4 linked regions of the Homo sapiens genome follow. The protein of the gene in region 1 interacts with the protein of each later gene in a pairwise test. Each region holds a gene or a part of one and is shown on either strand. Other genes may lie near its edges.

Region 1 (3,001 bases):
TGACATTTGCTTGATTAAAATGATGTTATTAGTAATGATTACTTCTTTCACATTACTTATTCATATATTCAACAAATTTCTCTACTTCGCATCAGTTTTTGAGCTAAGTGTACAAAGATGAATGAGATGTAGCCCACAGAGTGTATACATTACTTTTTCTAGGAGGTGAAGAATATTATTAAATAACTGTTGATTTAATAAATGAGTAGAAGAATGAGTGAATGAAGAAACAGCACTATGCTCAAAATACTTTAGGAAAGTTATACAGATAGGGCCAGCATGCATTTATGGGGCAGGGGTTGGGGGGCAGGCGGAGAGAGAGAGAGAGGGAGACAGAGACAGGAGAAGAGGAGGGGGAGGGGAGGACAGGGGAGGAGAGGGGAGGGGAAAGAAAGAAAAAGAAAAAGAGAAAAGAAAAGAAAAGAAAGAAAAGAGACAAGACAGCAACATAAAAGGCCTCAACATATGACTAAATACTGGAGGAGGGCTTCTCTATGCTGTTTTCTGCTTTTGTATGCCTGAAGGACACCACACACTTTCATCAGTAAAAGTGGCTTATCATGGCATGTAGAGTAAAGTTAGAGCTCTACCGTGGGGGGAGGATTGCTTGAGTCCAGGAGTTCAAGGCTGCAGTGAGCTATGATTATGCCACTTGCACTCCAGCCTGGATGACAGAGACCCTGTCTCTAAAAACAAAACAAAAGAAAACAAAAAGCCCTGCATAAGAGGCTTTAATGGAGAAATTGGGACTGGAACTGGGATTGAAGATGAAGCAAGGATGCCCGTTTTCTTGTTATTCATGTGGAACATCCCTTCATTGGATATATTTCAATAACTGTTTGATCTAGGACTTACTCTTTTTGTATGATTCTAGTTTTTCTCAAGAAATGATTGCTGTTACTGTTATTAATGTACCCTTCTTCAAACTACGTCCTATGGAAAATTACATTTTTTTTTCACAGATGCTTAGATTTTTTGCAATAGCTAAAAGCAAAAACCTAGAAAGAATGAGGCAATTTAATCCTTGCTGATGATGAGGAAAAACATTATGTTAATATACACGAGCATTAGGGAGTAATAGTCTTTACATATATATATTTTTCCTTCTATGAGCCCAAGATCATTCTTAAATTATTCCTCATAGCAAAAATTTAGAACTACTTACATAATTTCAGTCTAGGTCTGCTTTATAAAATGTAGTAGTCACTGGATCTTTGTCCTTATGATATTGTGGCATTGTTCCGTAGGTGTGACAGTGTTATGGAAAAATATTTGTGCTAACTGTTTGGACAGGATTCACAAAGTGTTAAACTGAATTCTGAATTACAATGGCTTGTGTTGCGAGAAAGCTCCAGGAATTCTCTGCTTTTTGGTTTCTCACCTCTTTTTATTCAGTAACAAGGATTCCTAATCATTACCGACAGCTGGGCCTGACTTTATTTTACAACTTGAAATTTTGTAAAGTTGCCTTGTAAGACTCAAATCTAGTACTTACAAATATTTAGTTAGTGGCTAAGTGATAAGGTGAGGTTTAGAGGCATAAGTGGAACAATTTGGAATTTGAGTCGTAAATGGAGTCAATGATATTTTCCCTTGGTTTTGTCTCTAGGAGGCGATTATGCAGCCCCTTGATCATAAGAATCTGGATATGGATGTGCCATACTTTGCAGATGTGGTGAGGTGGGTGGCACTGTATCTTGCCTTATGTGGATTGTAAAACAAGAATTGATTTGAATACTTTGATTGTTGTGTGATTTCTGAAGTTTTAATTTAATGAAATCTTTCGAAACTAGAATTTCTATTTTCTGTAAATATTAAACATGAAATTTTATTGTTTGCATTTTGAATTTTTTTTGTTTTTGTTTTTTTTTCTTATAGCACGACTGAAAATGTAGCTGTTTATATCTGGGACAACCTCCAGAAAGTTCTTCCTGTAGGAGTTCTTTATAAAGTAAAAGTATACGAAACTGACAATAATATTGTGGTTTATAAAGGAGAATAGCTATTGGGGTTAGCATTGCACAAAGCCCAGTTTCTTTCTGTGTTTGAAAAAGATTTTGATCCCCTTGGAATATTAAGAGGTCAACACGTGATTGTTGTACGTACACATTGTGCTCTGGAGTGCCTATTTATTGAAATCATTGTAAGACCTGTTATAAATTTAAGTCTATTTAAAACTAAACTTGTAATATACATCCTGAAAATCATTTAGAGAGTCTTTTATTTATAAATTAAAAATCACTTCATTTTCACAAAATGTTTTGGTGTGGGATTATTTGAAAGCAAAAGAAATCTAATTTTGTTTTCTCCATTACCTCATTTTAGTATTAATTTTTACTTGGTATAATATACATGGTTAAAATGCTTATGTGACTTCGAGTAGGTGAATCTTAAAGAAATAAAATTCAAGTGACCACAAAGTCTGGAGACAATATATATATGTATATTTAATAGATTGAACTCTCTTGATTACTACTTGTTGGGTGTGCTGAAGGCATAAGTGGATTCAGTGAAAATTAGACACACAAATCATGTGAGGCATCTGTTGTGGATACACGTACAAATATTGATGGAAATGCTGCTTTAGAGCACATCATTCATTACAATTTTGCACAGCGTATTGAACTATGAATTGCTAGTGAGGAACAACACATTAAACATATCATGGAATATCAGTAAATTATTCAGTATACTCCTCTGAATTTCTGAACCTGATGGGCACTTGAATAATTTCAACTCAGAAGACTGCAGAATAATCATATTTTAAACTCTAAAAAATAGTCAGCATAAAAAGGATCAACTACCATATAAAATATTTCCTGTATATAGTTTTTCCTAATTGATCCCATTTTGTTCTGATTATTAAACTTACTATATGCTTGGCATTCTTCTCTGGGATCTTTTCCTCGTGACTAAATCCACAAGAAAGTATTTGCTTACTTTGCACGGAAGACTGTTCTGTGTTCTTGTTTGTTTTCTAAATGTCTTAAACGCAGGGTTC
Region 2 (3,978 bases), on another chromosome or scaffold:
AGTGCCCAGGAACCTGGTTGGTGAGTTGGTGGTGTGTATATACAGTTAGAGGTCAGAATCAAGATTCTCTACAGTGATTCTGAGCTTTTATCCAGGATTGGCACCTCCCTGTGGACTCCCAGTTTCACAAGGACAGAGAAACAGTCTGTAATGGGAGTGATAAAAATGAAAGAATAAATTTCTAGGGATTGTAACATTTTGTCCTGTAAAAACACATCAGAAACCTAGAAGCAGGAGAATGAAGTAAATGGAATCCATATAAAGAAAATGAGGCTGGAAGACGGTGTATCAGCTTTATTCTTATTTCCTTAAAAAAAATAAAAGGCTGAATTCCTCATTTACCTATTCCAGGCAAAGTGATTGGAAAGAACGGGAAAGTGATCCAGGAGATTGTGGATAAATCTGGTGTGGTGAGGGTTCGAGTGGAAGGTGATAATGACAAGAAGAACCCCAGGGAGGAGGTATGGGTACGGGGCAAGTGGGCATAGAGATTGGTTTCCAGAAGTAAATGGGATTGTCCTCTGAGGGCTGGGATTGTTCTTTGAGAGGGTGGAGTACGGAAAGTTGTTTAACACTAGTAGATTTAGAGCCCAGAATGATCCCACTGGGCAGGCTCCCCTAGGAGACTGGGCGGCGTTAATCCTTCCATTTCATTTTCCTTTCTGATCCATCGTTTCTGCTCTCTGTTCTCTAGGGAATGGTTCCCTTCATTTTTGTTGGCACCCGAGAGAACATCAGCAATGCCCAGGCTTTGCTGGAGTATCACCTCTCCTACCTGCAGGTACCCAGGCCGGGAGAGAAAAATGCTGGGTGTGAAAAGGGAACTAAGACTGCTGTGGGGGTCAGCTCAGGGATTTTGGTTCTCTGTTTGTCTCTCCGTGTAGAACAGAAAACATCTGTGGAAATTTGGGGCTATAGGGTTGGGTCCCAGAATTTTCCTTGTTTAGCCAGTGTCTTCCTTCTCCCTGCATTCCTGAGAGGTTAGATATAGAGGGACAGTCAGGGTGCAGAAGCATGAAGCAAGGCACTGATCTTATTTCTCCTTCCCCTTCTTCCATCTTTTACCCAACCAGGAGGTAGAGCAGCTTCGCTTGGAGAGGCTACAAATTGATGAGCAGCTTCGGCAGATTGGGCTGGGCTTTCGCCCTCCTGGGAGTGGGCGGGGCAGCGGTGGCAGCGACAAGGCTGGATATAGCACTGATGAGAGCTCCTCCTCCTCCCTCCATGCGACTCGAACCTATGGGGGCAGCTATGGGGGCCGTGGCCGTGGCCGGAGGACAGGCGGTCCTGCCTATGGTGAGACAGTTATGGGAACAGGAGGCAAGGAGTGGCAGGGCTTGTGGGTAGAGGCAGAGGTCTGGATGGAAGTTTGGGGAAATCTGGAATGGAGATGATGAAAAAGTGATTGATTGGCTGGGAGGCTTGTGAGTGAGAAGGAGAATTCTTCCAGTTTGGGGGATGTGATGGATCCTGAGGTGGGATGAATGGCCGTGAATAAATCCCATTGTGTTCTTCAGGCCCCAGCTCAGATGTGTCTACAGCTTCAGAGACTGAGTCAGAGAAGAGAGAGGAGCCCAACCGAGCTGGGCCTGGCGACAGGGATCCCCCAACCCGAGGGGAAGAAAGCCGGAGGCGGCCGACTGGGGGCCGGGGTAGGGGACCCCCACCTGCCCCCCGGCCCACTTCGAGATACAATTCTTCATCTATTAGCTCAGGTACCAGACAGCTGGGTTCATGAATATGGGCCAAAAGGAAAGATGATGGGCACCTGACTGCCAACTCCTCCTCTTCTTCCTCTGACCAGTGCTGAAGGATCCAGACAGTAATCCCTACAGCCTATTGGACACGTCTGAACCAGAGCCCCCGGTTGATTCAGAACCTGGGGAACCCCCCCCAGCAAGTGCCAGGCGCCGCCGCTCCCGCCGCCGCCGCACTGATGAAGACAGGACCGTCATGGATGGAGGCCTGGAATCAGATGGGCCCAACATGACAGAGAATGGCCTGGGTGAGGGTGTGCCTGGGGTCTGGAAAGTTAGAGATGGGTAGGAATCGAGGGTGGGAGGTTGGATGTGTGACTCTGGTTTTTTCCTACCCTACAGAAGATGAATCAAGACCTCAACGTCGTAATCGCAGCCGCCGCCGCCGTAACCGTGGTAATCGGACTGATGGCTCTATCAGTGGAGACCGCCAGCCAGGTCAGCCAACTCTGGACACCAGAATCCTTCCTCAGAGCTGAGAGAATGGGATGCTCACCCCTGTGAAAATCAGGGGTTCGGGTTCAGTGGGTGTCTTAGGCTGGCTACCAGAATTCCATCTGAAAGTCTTAATCTCCTGCCTTCCCCAGTGACTGTGGCTGACTATATCTCACGAGCAGAGTCTCAGAGCCGCCAGAGGCCACCCCTGGAACGCACTAAACCCTCAGAAGACTCTCTTTCAGGACAGAAGGTAGGCAGGCAAGATGTGCTTTACCCCATCCCTTTTTTGTTGTTACTCTGGGGCAGGGGGCACAAAAAATTTCACAAATCTCCTACTGAATTGCAGAGGCAGCTGTGTCTGATGGAGTTTAGACCAGTGTAAACTTTGAATAGGATAGAGAAGAAAGTGTGGTTCACATTTTCTGGATCCCAAGTAAGAGAGACTGGATCATGAGATCAGGGAACCAACCTCTGGATCACCAAATGCCAGGAGGGCTTGGATGGTAGGGAATGTCTCCCACCTGAATTTCTACTCACCGCTTCTTGCTTTTCTGTTTTCTTTCCCACTTTCCCCTCAGGGTGACTCTGTCAGCAAGCTTCCTAAGGGCCCCTCGGAGAATGGGGAGCTCTCCGCCCCCTTGGAGTTGGGTAGTATGGTGAATGGGGTTTCATAAAACCTCCAACCTGCACCCCTCCCTTCTCCATCTCGCTTGCTGCCCAACACCATGGCCCTCACAGGCCCAACTGACCTGCGCTGGAGCTGCTCTTATCTAGGGGGGAGGGGGGTGGCACAGCAGCTTGGGTACCCCCCAACCTCCAGGAGCTAGTGGAGGGGTGTGTAACAGGGTCATACCCCCTCCCTCTTGTCCACCCTACCCCCAGGGTAAGGGGAGCCTCTCTCCTTCCCCATCAGACTGGATGTGCCTTTATCCTCTAATGCCCCAATCTCTCTCTGAACACCCCCATTCTCCACCTGTTGGTGGGGGGTGCTCCTCGACCCACCCAGATTTGACCGTTCAGGGGGCCTCCCCTGCTATCCCTCCTCCCATCCTGTACCCCCCATTTCTGGGGCCTCATCACTGTGGAAGACGGGGATAGTAAGAGATAAGTGGGTGGGAGGCACGGGGAAGGTTTTGGAGTAGAACCAGGGGTGTGTATGAAGGGGGGTGACAAGGTCCCCCTGGGGAGGGGACCAACCTTGTCTGGTGGATGAGAAGGCGTATTTATTTTTCACTGTACAGTATTTAAAAAGAGAATAAAAAAATCCAAATGGCTGTCTGGCTCCTGTGCCTTCTTTGTCCCCAGTTTGGTCCATTTGTTTCTCTAGGACTGACCTGCCCTGGCCCCTGGCTCTTGTTTTCTGTTCCTCCACATCTGACTTCTCTTCATTGTCTCTTGTCCCAAAGATGGTCTTACTTCTGGGAATTCCTGACATTCCTAAACTCCCCAGGCCCAGGTTCTCCCTCCTGGTTCAGAGGAGGGGGGCTTGTGCCTTGTTGCTTCTCCCCTCCCCCAAGTTTGCTGGTAGAGGGAGTTGGGCCACTCCTATACCCTGAGTCACAGCACAGGCTAGGCAGGGCTGCTCAGAGCTGGAGCTGTTCCTGTAGAAGCTGAGAGCCAAGGCAGGCTGCTTAATCCGATTACCTGAGGCCTGGGGCTTGGGCTGGGCCGTTGGGCAGAGTGGGGAGCAGGGTTCCCTCACAGCAGCCTCTGGAGCCCGGGGTCCGGCCTTCTTGGTGGTGTTCTGTTCTGGCTCCAGGCTTTTTCTCCGGCATGCGCATCA
Region 3 (3,978 bases), on another chromosome or scaffold:
AGAACTCGTAACATGCAGCGTTCAGTAGCGTCCTCAGAAGGGTCATGTCAGAGTAGGGGGGCTAAATTAGCCCTCGATGAAAGGCTGCTCTGAGCCAAGCATGTTGGCTCACACCTGTAATCCCAGCACTTTGGGAGGCCGAGGTGGGCAGATCACTTGAGGTCAGAAGTTAAGAGAACAGCCTGGCCAACATGGTGAAACCCCATCTCTACTAAAAATACAAAAATTAGCTGGGTATGGTGGCACACCTCTCTAATTCCAGCTACTTAGGAGGCTGAGACAGGAGAATTGCTTGAACCTGGGAGTTGGAGGGTGTAATGAGCCAAGATCACGCCACTTCACTCCAGCCTGGGCAACAGAGCAAGGCTTTGTCTAAAAAAAAAAAAAAAAGAAGAAAGGAACGCTACTCTCAACCTTTACTCAGAAAGACGAAAAGCAGCCAGGCGTGGTGGCTCACGCCTATAATCCCAGCACTTTGGGAAGCTAAGAGGGGTGGATCACTTGAGGTCAGGAGTTCGAGACCAGCCTGGCCAACGTGGTGAAACCCCGTCTCTACTAAAAATACAAAAACTAGCCAGGTGTGGTAGTGGGTGCCTAGAATCCAAGCTACTTGGGAGGCTGAGGCAGGAGAATCGCTTGAATCCAGGAGGCAGAGGTTGTAGCAAGCCAAGATTGTGCCACTGCACTCCAGCCTGGGCAATAGAGCAAGACTCCGTCTCAAAAAAAAAAAAAAAAAAAAAAAAAAAGGAGTTAATCCTGGCCAGCGTGGTGGCTCATGCCTATAATCTCAGTATTTTGGGAGGCCAAGGTAGGAGCAATATACTGAGACCCTACCTTGATTAAAAAAAAAAAAGAGTCAATTCCATAACTAAATCCAACATACCCAATAATGCATGTATCTAAAACATGCATTAATTTAAAGTCTGTTTTCTTTTTTTTGAGACAGAGTCTCCCTCTGTCACCCAGGCTAGAGTGCAGTGGTGCAATTTTGGCTCATTGCGACCTCCACCTCCCAGATTCAAGCAATTCTCCTGCCTCAGCCTCCTGAGTAGCTGGGATTACAGGCGTGCACCACCACGCCTGGCTAATTTTTGGTTAATATGGGCCAGGCACAGTGGCTCACCCCTGTAATCCCAGCACTTTGGGAGGCCAAGGCAGAAGGATCACCTGAGGCCAAGAGTTCAAGACCAGCCTAGCCCACATGGCAAAACCTCATGTCTACTAAAAATATAAAAACTAACCAGGTGTGGCCGGCGCGGTGGCTCACGCCTGTAATCCCAGCACTTTGGGAGGCCGAGGCGGGCAGATCACGAGGTCAGGAGATCGAGACCATCCTGGCTAACACGGTAAGACCCCATCTCTACTAAAAATACAAAAAAAAAATTAGCCGGGTGTGGTGGCGGGCGCCTGTAGTCCCAGCTACTCAGGAGGCTGAGGCAGGAGAATGGCATGAACCCGGGAGGCGGAGCTTGCAGTGAGCTGACATCGCACCACTGCACTCCAGCGTGGGTGACAGAGTGAGACTCCGTCTCAAAAAAAAAAAAAAACTAGCCAGGTGTGATGGTGTATGCCTGTAATCCCAACTAATCCAGAGGCTGAGGCATGAAAATTGCTTGAACTCAGGAGATGGAGGTTGCAGTGAGCTGGGATCGTGCCACTGCACTCCAGCCTGGGCAACAAGAGTCTCAACAAAAAAAAAAGAAAGAAAGAAAATTGGGCTGGCAGTGCTCACCTCGGCAGCCCATATAGTAATTGGGCTGGCAAAAGCCCAGCACAAAACAGCATCCAATGACTAGTAGTCATCAAAACAAAAGGAATTGCCCCAGTTGGACCAGGGCTGACAAGGGGTTCACTAAATGCCTGCGATGCACTAGGTTCTGTCTTAGGTGCTCACATCTCAAGGGGAAACAGGTAGCTGCTAAAGGCACACTGTGGCCAGACCAGGCCCTGTAGAGCAGGTTGCCATAGATGCTAAGGCAGACCCCTCGAGCCCTCTCCTTACCAGGGAGCTTCCCCAGTTCTCACACTGAGGCCAGGAAGCAGCTCTGTGTACTGATAAGCAATTCCAATATAATTTTTTAAATTATGAGAGCTTTTCATAGAGAGCCTCAAAAATCAGAGTTTGAACCCTCTCTTAGTGTTCAGTCCCCTCAAATATGCCAAATGTATATTTTACTTTCTTCCGTTAAACTATTTTTTTCTTTTTCTTTTTTTTTTTTTGAGATGGAATCTTGCTCTTGTCACTCAGGCTGGAGTGCAGTGGTGCGATCTCGGCTCACTGCAACCTCTGCCTCCCGGTTCAAGCAATTACCCGGTTCAAGTAATTCTCCTGTCTCAGTCTCCCAAGGAGCTGGGACTTCAGGCACACACCACCACACCCGGCTAATTTTTGTATTTTTAGTAGAGACGGAGTTTCACCACATTGGTCAGGCTAGTCTCGAACTCCTGACCTCAGGTGGTCCACCCACCTCAGCCTCCCAAAGTGCTGGGATTACAGGCATAAGCCACCACGCTCAGACCCTTGTTGAAGTACTAACACTACTGCCCTATTTTTCTGACATGCTGCAGAGCTCACAGAGCACTTTCACACAGACTGTATTATCCAGGTGTTGGGATGATCTCACCCCTAAGTGGGAATGTTGTGAATTACTTACAAACGTAAATAATACTTCAAACTCATATGAATGCCAAACAATAGTAATAGGGTGAAGGACCCTTTATCTTCTTAAATGTCAGGAAATTATCAACTGGATTGATGCCTAAAAGCACATAAATGAGACAAGTGGTACAATAAAACCTGCTAGCGCTCACCTCCCTCTAATGCAGATTTTATTATATAGCCAAAGTGACATTTCACACATCATAAGGATGCAATGGGGATTTCTTTCACCACAGCACAAAACCCTACCATGGCAAGGTGCTACTAGTCCCGCTGTTAAATGACACAAGCATGCGAGTATCCTGATGTTCAGTGTCCCCGCAGTAGCTACATCCAATAATCCAGCAGTTTGCAGGTGCCCTGGTTCTGATCCTTAACACCCTTCCTCTCCCACATGTTCTTATGCCTTCCAGTCCTATTCTCTGTGCCTTCATTTCTGAATCTAATACACACACAGAAGTAGTATTTCCTATGACCTCCTTATCATTCATGGAATTTTTTGTTTTTTGTTTTTTGTTTTTTTTTTTTTTTGAGATGGAGTCTCACTCTGTCACCCAGGCTGGAATGCAGTGGCCCGATCTCAGCTCACTGCAAGCTCTGCCTCCCAGGTTCGCACCATTCTCCTGCCTCAGCCTCCCTAGTAGCTGGGACTACAGGTGCCTGTCACCACACCTGGCTAATTTTTTGTATTTTTAGTAGAGACAGGGTTTCACCGTGTTAGCCAGGATGGTGTCTATCTCCTGACCTCGTGATCCGCCCACCTCGGCCTCCCAAAGTGCTGGGATTCACTCATGGAGTTTTATTCAAAGAACAACCTGACTTTTGTCCTCCGTTAAGGAAAAATGCTGATGTGTATGTGATCAATCAGAACCCCCATCTGAGAAGGCATCTTGGCTCACCTCCAGTCTCAATGCAGGGATATGGCGGCGGAGGCTCTCTCCAATTCCCACTGGAGTCTTTCATGTGAGATCGGTCAGAAGCAAAGTTCTTCAAATATGAATCTGCACGGATCACTCTAAATTTCCTGCAGAAAAATCAATATACACTCACATTAGGGAGATGTCATGTTTGAAATTCTAACTCCATTTTTATATCGACTCATTTCCTATGACATGCACAAAACTACTCATGCATTTCTGTATGGTTAGTAATACAGGCAACTTTACTACCTATTAGAGAAGCATAGGAAATGATCAACCAAACCCCGAAACAGAAAGGCAAAGGCACAAAAATATATCTGGTTGCCTCGATTTACTCGATTTGTGTATCAAGGGCAATGGGCATGATTTTCTGATGCTGCCCTCACAGCCCTCTCAATG
Region 4 (3,978 bases), on another chromosome or scaffold:
GTCTTTGTTCTCATTATGGAGTGTGTGCGCCAGGGGTGGGTTGGGGAAGCCTGGGGCAGATGGGATGGGGGTGTGTACCTTCCCGGATGGCGGTGCAGGGTGCCCCCTCTTCATGTTCCAGTCTGATCTCCTTGAGTGCCACAAGGTTGTCTGTGAGCTTGCTTTTGCCTTTGTAGACGGTGGCATAGGTACCCTGGAATGTGAGGAAGTGTGACAGGAGAGGTGCTATGAGATTCCAGGAGTTCCCACTGACCTTCATCCCCACCATGGGCCTCCTATTTGCCTCTCACCTCGCCCAGTTTGTCCAGCTTAATGTAGGTCTCCAGTTTCCCAAAGCCAATCTCAGACTGTGGGACAAATGAGGCAGGTTAAAGCTGGCTCAGGAGAAGGGTCTGGGAGAGAAGAAAAAGGAGAGGACGGGAACAGAAGGTGCTTACTAGGCTGACACGACGGAGGCGGCGGCTGAGGGGCTTGTCAAAGATGGGGCTATTGAGGGTCAGCTTCTCCAGGTAGCCCTCAGGCAGCCGGATGTCAGCTGGTAGTGATAGGCGCTTGTTGATGTCCTAGCAGGTAAGGCAAGAGAGAAACAGGATCATGAGCTCCACCTCCCCAGGTCCAACCCCCTTTTCCAGTTCCTCCACCATCCAGACGGGGTCAAGCACCTCAGTGGAGATCTTGCGTGGGGGATGGTTGCGCATACGCACTCTCACTGGAGACTGCACCTCATCCGAGGACGTGGCTGAAGCCTGGTCACTCTCCCCATCAGACCCCATCTTCAAGTCCTCGTGCACAATCTCTGGTGGCAGGGAGAGGGGTAGGGCAGGCCAGGTGGGGTCAGGAACCACAGGACACCCCATCCCCCACGAAACATATTCCATCATCACACATGTGTGCACGTGGCCCCCACAGGAAACCTGGAGTCCCTCGGGGAGAGGGTGATGTACCTGAGCCCAGGGAAGCTCAGGTACATCTAGGGCAGGTTGAACTGGGGGGTGGGGAAGCAAAAGTCACCTAGTGGAACCCTTCCTTCCAAGGGCAAGCTGAGCTCAGAGCCGGCAGCTAGGTGGTGGCAGGGGAAGCCAAGGGTCCTGGGAAGGCAGGCCCAGGGCAGGCAGGTACCAGAGGACTGAGGAGGCCATCATAGAGGGCAGAAGGGCAGAGGGAGCCTTGGGGCAGCTGTGACAGGCAAGGCACCTTCTGTCCCCCACCACGGGGCCTGGGCAGAAAGGCAAGAAGAGGAGCGCAGATGGACAGATAGACAGACGGTGTTGAGAGAAGATGGGAGGGAAGGGGGAGAAGAGAGCACATGGGGGGCAGAGAAAGGGCAGAAAATTTAGAGGAAAATGAGGAATGTGACCAGGAGGCAACACCTGGGAAGCAGCCTGGGGCCATATGGGAGAGGGGATAGCCAGTGGACCCACCTGGTGCAGAGCTGAGTGGGCCCCGTGCAGAACGAAGTTCCCCAGGAGCAGCACGTGTGGGGGCCTCTCCAGGGTCACTGCCGCCACCACCACCACTCTCATCCAGGCCTATCTGCTCAGGGGCACCATTGGTCTTGTCTATGCCTCGGCCACCTCGGAGTGTCATTGACAGCTGCCGTTTGATCTTCTTCATCCGATCCATGGCGATCTGAGCAAGGGACAAGGATGGAAATGGGTCTCTTATTAGCATTTGCTTGATCACCATGGGTTCCCTAAAGCCCACAGCCTAGCAGGGGGCACTGACATGAACTTGTCAGTGCTCACTCAACCACTATGGACCCCAGAGCCACTCAGGAGTTCTGGAAACCCAGCATGGATGGGGATCTTTGTCAGTACCTGCCCACCCACACAGCCAGCCCCACTGGGACCCTGCTCCTACGTAGCCCACCTGAGTTCTCAGATTTAGGTGGCTGATTGAGGGCAAGGGCCCTAACGATGGATTGTTGGGATCTAGGGGAAAAGCCCCACTGCAGGAGCAGAAGGCTCCATTGCAGATCTTCTCAGGTACAGCTGCAGTGATGGGCCCAGCCATGGGTCGGCCAGGGCGTGTGCCCAGAATTGAAGGATGGGTGACATGGTCTCGAGCACGGCCATAGAGTGGCATAGTTCCCCTAGCACCACCCTCAAAGGCCAAGGCAGACTATTCCCTGTGGCCACAGGGACCCTCTTCCTGACTTCTCTAGCACTCATCGTCATGACAACCACTGCATCATCCCATTCATCTACCCAGGTGGGGGGGGGGAGGGGAGCGTGTGTCAGGGTGTCCTGCCCAGACCCAACCACTGGGTGGGATTGTGTGGAGGGCGGGGGGGTCTCAGTGTACACCAGCTCTTCTCAGGGCTGCCAGAACGGTTTGATCAGGTTAGGACCCCTAGGGTCCAATCTAGACTTTTACAAGCCAAGTCACATTTCTCCTCTACTCAAGAATGTACATTTTTCATCACCCCAAATACACGCCCCAGTCCTCAATGTGGCCCACAGGTGTTTCTTTACCTCATTTGCCCCTATTGCCTCTTGCCCACGGCCCCCCCCCACCCCCACACCCCCCCGCCATCATTCCTAGTTGCTGTTCTGCAACCACACCCAGTAGAGTCCCACCTCGGGGCCTTTACACTGGCTGTTCCTGGTACCTGGAACACCCTTCCCCTAAATTTCGAAATGGCTCACTCCCCTCTCCCTTTGGGCCATTGCTCAAAGGTCACCTTTTTCATGAGGCCTCTGTGAATAACCCTATTTAAAATCTCAACCATCCCGAACTCCCTCACCTTGCCAGTTATCCCCCCAGCACTCATTACCTCCTCAGAAATGACACCACCTACTTATTGGTTTCTTTAGTCTTTACTGTCTATCTCCTCACCGCCACAACTAGAAGATCAGCTCCGCCAGGGTAGATTTCTGTGTTTAGGTCACGGCTATATCCTGAGGACCTGGAATAGTGACTGACACAGAGTAGATGCTCAAAAAGTGCTTATGGCAGAAATAAGTGAATCAGGGGGCTGAGGGCCTAGGACCAACCTCTGCTGAGGTGATGAGTCCCTGCTATTCATTGAACAACCCTAAACAAGGTAGCCCAGGGATGCTGGCATCGACAGGAAGATGACCTAGATGGATTGCTGAAGGGAATGGGGCCACCAAAAGGCTTAGGCCAGCCGTCTTCTGCTTCCTCTTGGGCTCTGGGCCAGCAAGGAGGGGGAAAGACCTGACCCAGGAACCATCTGGACTCACAGCAGGGCCTAAGATGGCCCTGGGCCCAAGGGAAGTAGAGCTAGATAGGAGGTCGAGGATGAGACTGGGGCTGGATTTGAGGAGAGAAATGGGTCATCTGCTACCTTGAAATCAGGTGCTTCCCCCAGCAGTTCTCGCCCCCACCTGGCTGAACTCACTATCCCCAGGAGGGGTAGGGGCCACCCTAGCAGAAAGACCTCAGATACAGGATGAGGTCCATCCATGGAGAACCCAGGATAACCACAAAACATCCTGACCTGGGAGGCTGAATACTGGGCCTAAGGCAAGGAAGGTAAAGCATGGCCAGCTCCCAAAGACAACCTTGTGTCCCCATATGGCACAGATACCCAGTTGCTTTGCATGTTGTGACAGGGAGTAGGGGAGGGGCTGGGGGAGACTGGAAGTAGGGCTGAATGGAGGATGGGGAGGAAGCCAGGAGGAGCCATGGGTCCACGACCTCTAACTGGAAACCCCAAGGGCTGGACATGCTCTGGAGTTCAGTTTTTTGGGATTTTAGGAAGATGGGGTGTAAAATCTGTATATCACATAACACTCCCAGAAAGGGGGATGGGGGTCTCAGACATGCCCCTGTGAACAGAGATAATTGAACATTTATACGCAAGGAAACTTTTAAATATCATTTCAGTTGAATGAGCTTTTTAGATTTCAAAAAAGGAGGGAGCAAGAAACTGGACATAAAACCTTACCCCAAAAAAGGCACATGTCCTGCCTGACCCTTCCTGATCCCCAAAGACATACACCCATCCTCAGA

What was found.
Region 2: the proteins of PTS (region 1) and FXR2 interact in binary tests that used the Homo sapiens proteins (3 or more experiments, as listed by UniProt).
Region 3: the proteins of PTS (region 1) and NTAQ1 interact in binary tests that used the Homo sapiens proteins (3 or more experiments, as listed by UniProt).
Region 4: the proteins of PTS (region 1) and CDK16 interact in a two-hybrid assay, tested with the Homo sapiens proteins (one study listed by IntAct).

The regions. Positions count from the first base shown.
Region 1 is NC_000011.10:112,231,554-112,234,554, forward strand, and holds the end of PTS (6-pyruvoyl tetrahydrobiopterin synthase), read left to right. Parts: intron 1-1,609; coding exon 1,610-1,680; intron 1,681-1,878; coding exon 1,879-2,002; 3' UTR 2,003-2,420; downstream 2,421-3,001. UniProt on the Homo sapiens protein: Involved in the biosynthesis of tetrahydrobiopterin, an essential cofactor of aromatic amino acid hydroxylases. Catalyzes the transformation of 7,8-dihydroneopterin triphosphate into 6-pyruvoyl tetrahydropterin.
Region 2 is NC_000017.11:7,590,721-7,594,698, reverse strand, and holds the end of FXR2 (RNA-binding protein FXR2), read left to right. Parts: coding exon 1-20; intron 21-351; coding exon 352-461; intron 462-694; coding exon 695-781; intron 782-1,073; coding exon 1,074-1,296; intron 1,297-1,517; coding exon 1,518-1,715; intron 1,716-1,804; coding exon 1,805-2,005; intron 2,006-2,099; coding exon 2,100-2,195; intron 2,196-2,344; coding exon 2,345-2,445; intron 2,446-2,541; coding exon of another isoform or gene 2,542-2,577; exon of another isoform or gene 2,578-2,633; intron 2,634-2,773; coding exon 2,774-2,869; 3' UTR 2,870-3,469; downstream 3,470-3,978. UniProt on the Homo sapiens protein: mRNA-binding protein that acts as a regulator of mRNAs translation and/or stability, and which is required for adult hippocampal neurogenesis. Specifically binds to AU-rich elements (AREs) in the 3'-UTR of target mRNAs.
Region 3 is NC_000008.11:123,436,915-123,440,892, reverse strand, and holds part of NTAQ1 (protein N-terminal glutamine amidohydrolase), read right to left. Parts: intron 3,684-3,978; coding exon 3,559-3,683; intron 2,760-3,558; coding exon of another isoform or gene 2,677-2,759; exon of another isoform or gene 2,564-2,676; intron 1-2,563. UniProt on the Homo sapiens protein: Mediates the side-chain deamidation of N-terminal glutamine residues to glutamate, an important step in N-end rule pathway of protein degradation.
Region 4 is NC_000023.11:47,221,203-47,225,180, reverse strand, and holds part of CDK16 (cyclin-dependent kinase 16), read right to left. Parts: exon of another isoform or gene 2,921-3,978; coding exon of another isoform or gene 2,839-2,920; exon of another isoform or gene 2,801-2,838; intron 2,131-2,800; exon of another isoform or gene 2,086-2,130; coding exon of another isoform or gene 1,870-2,085; intron 1,630-1,869; coding exon of another isoform or gene 1,624-1,629; coding exon 1,422-1,623; intron 797-1,421; coding exon 663-796; intron 564-662; coding exon 438-563; intron 348-437; coding exon 291-347; intron 194-290; coding exon 79-193; intron 1-78. UniProt on the Homo sapiens protein: Protein kinase that plays a role in vesicle-mediated transport processes and exocytosis. Regulates GH1 release by brain neurons. Phosphorylates NSF, and thereby regulates NSF oligomerization. Required for normal spermatogenesis.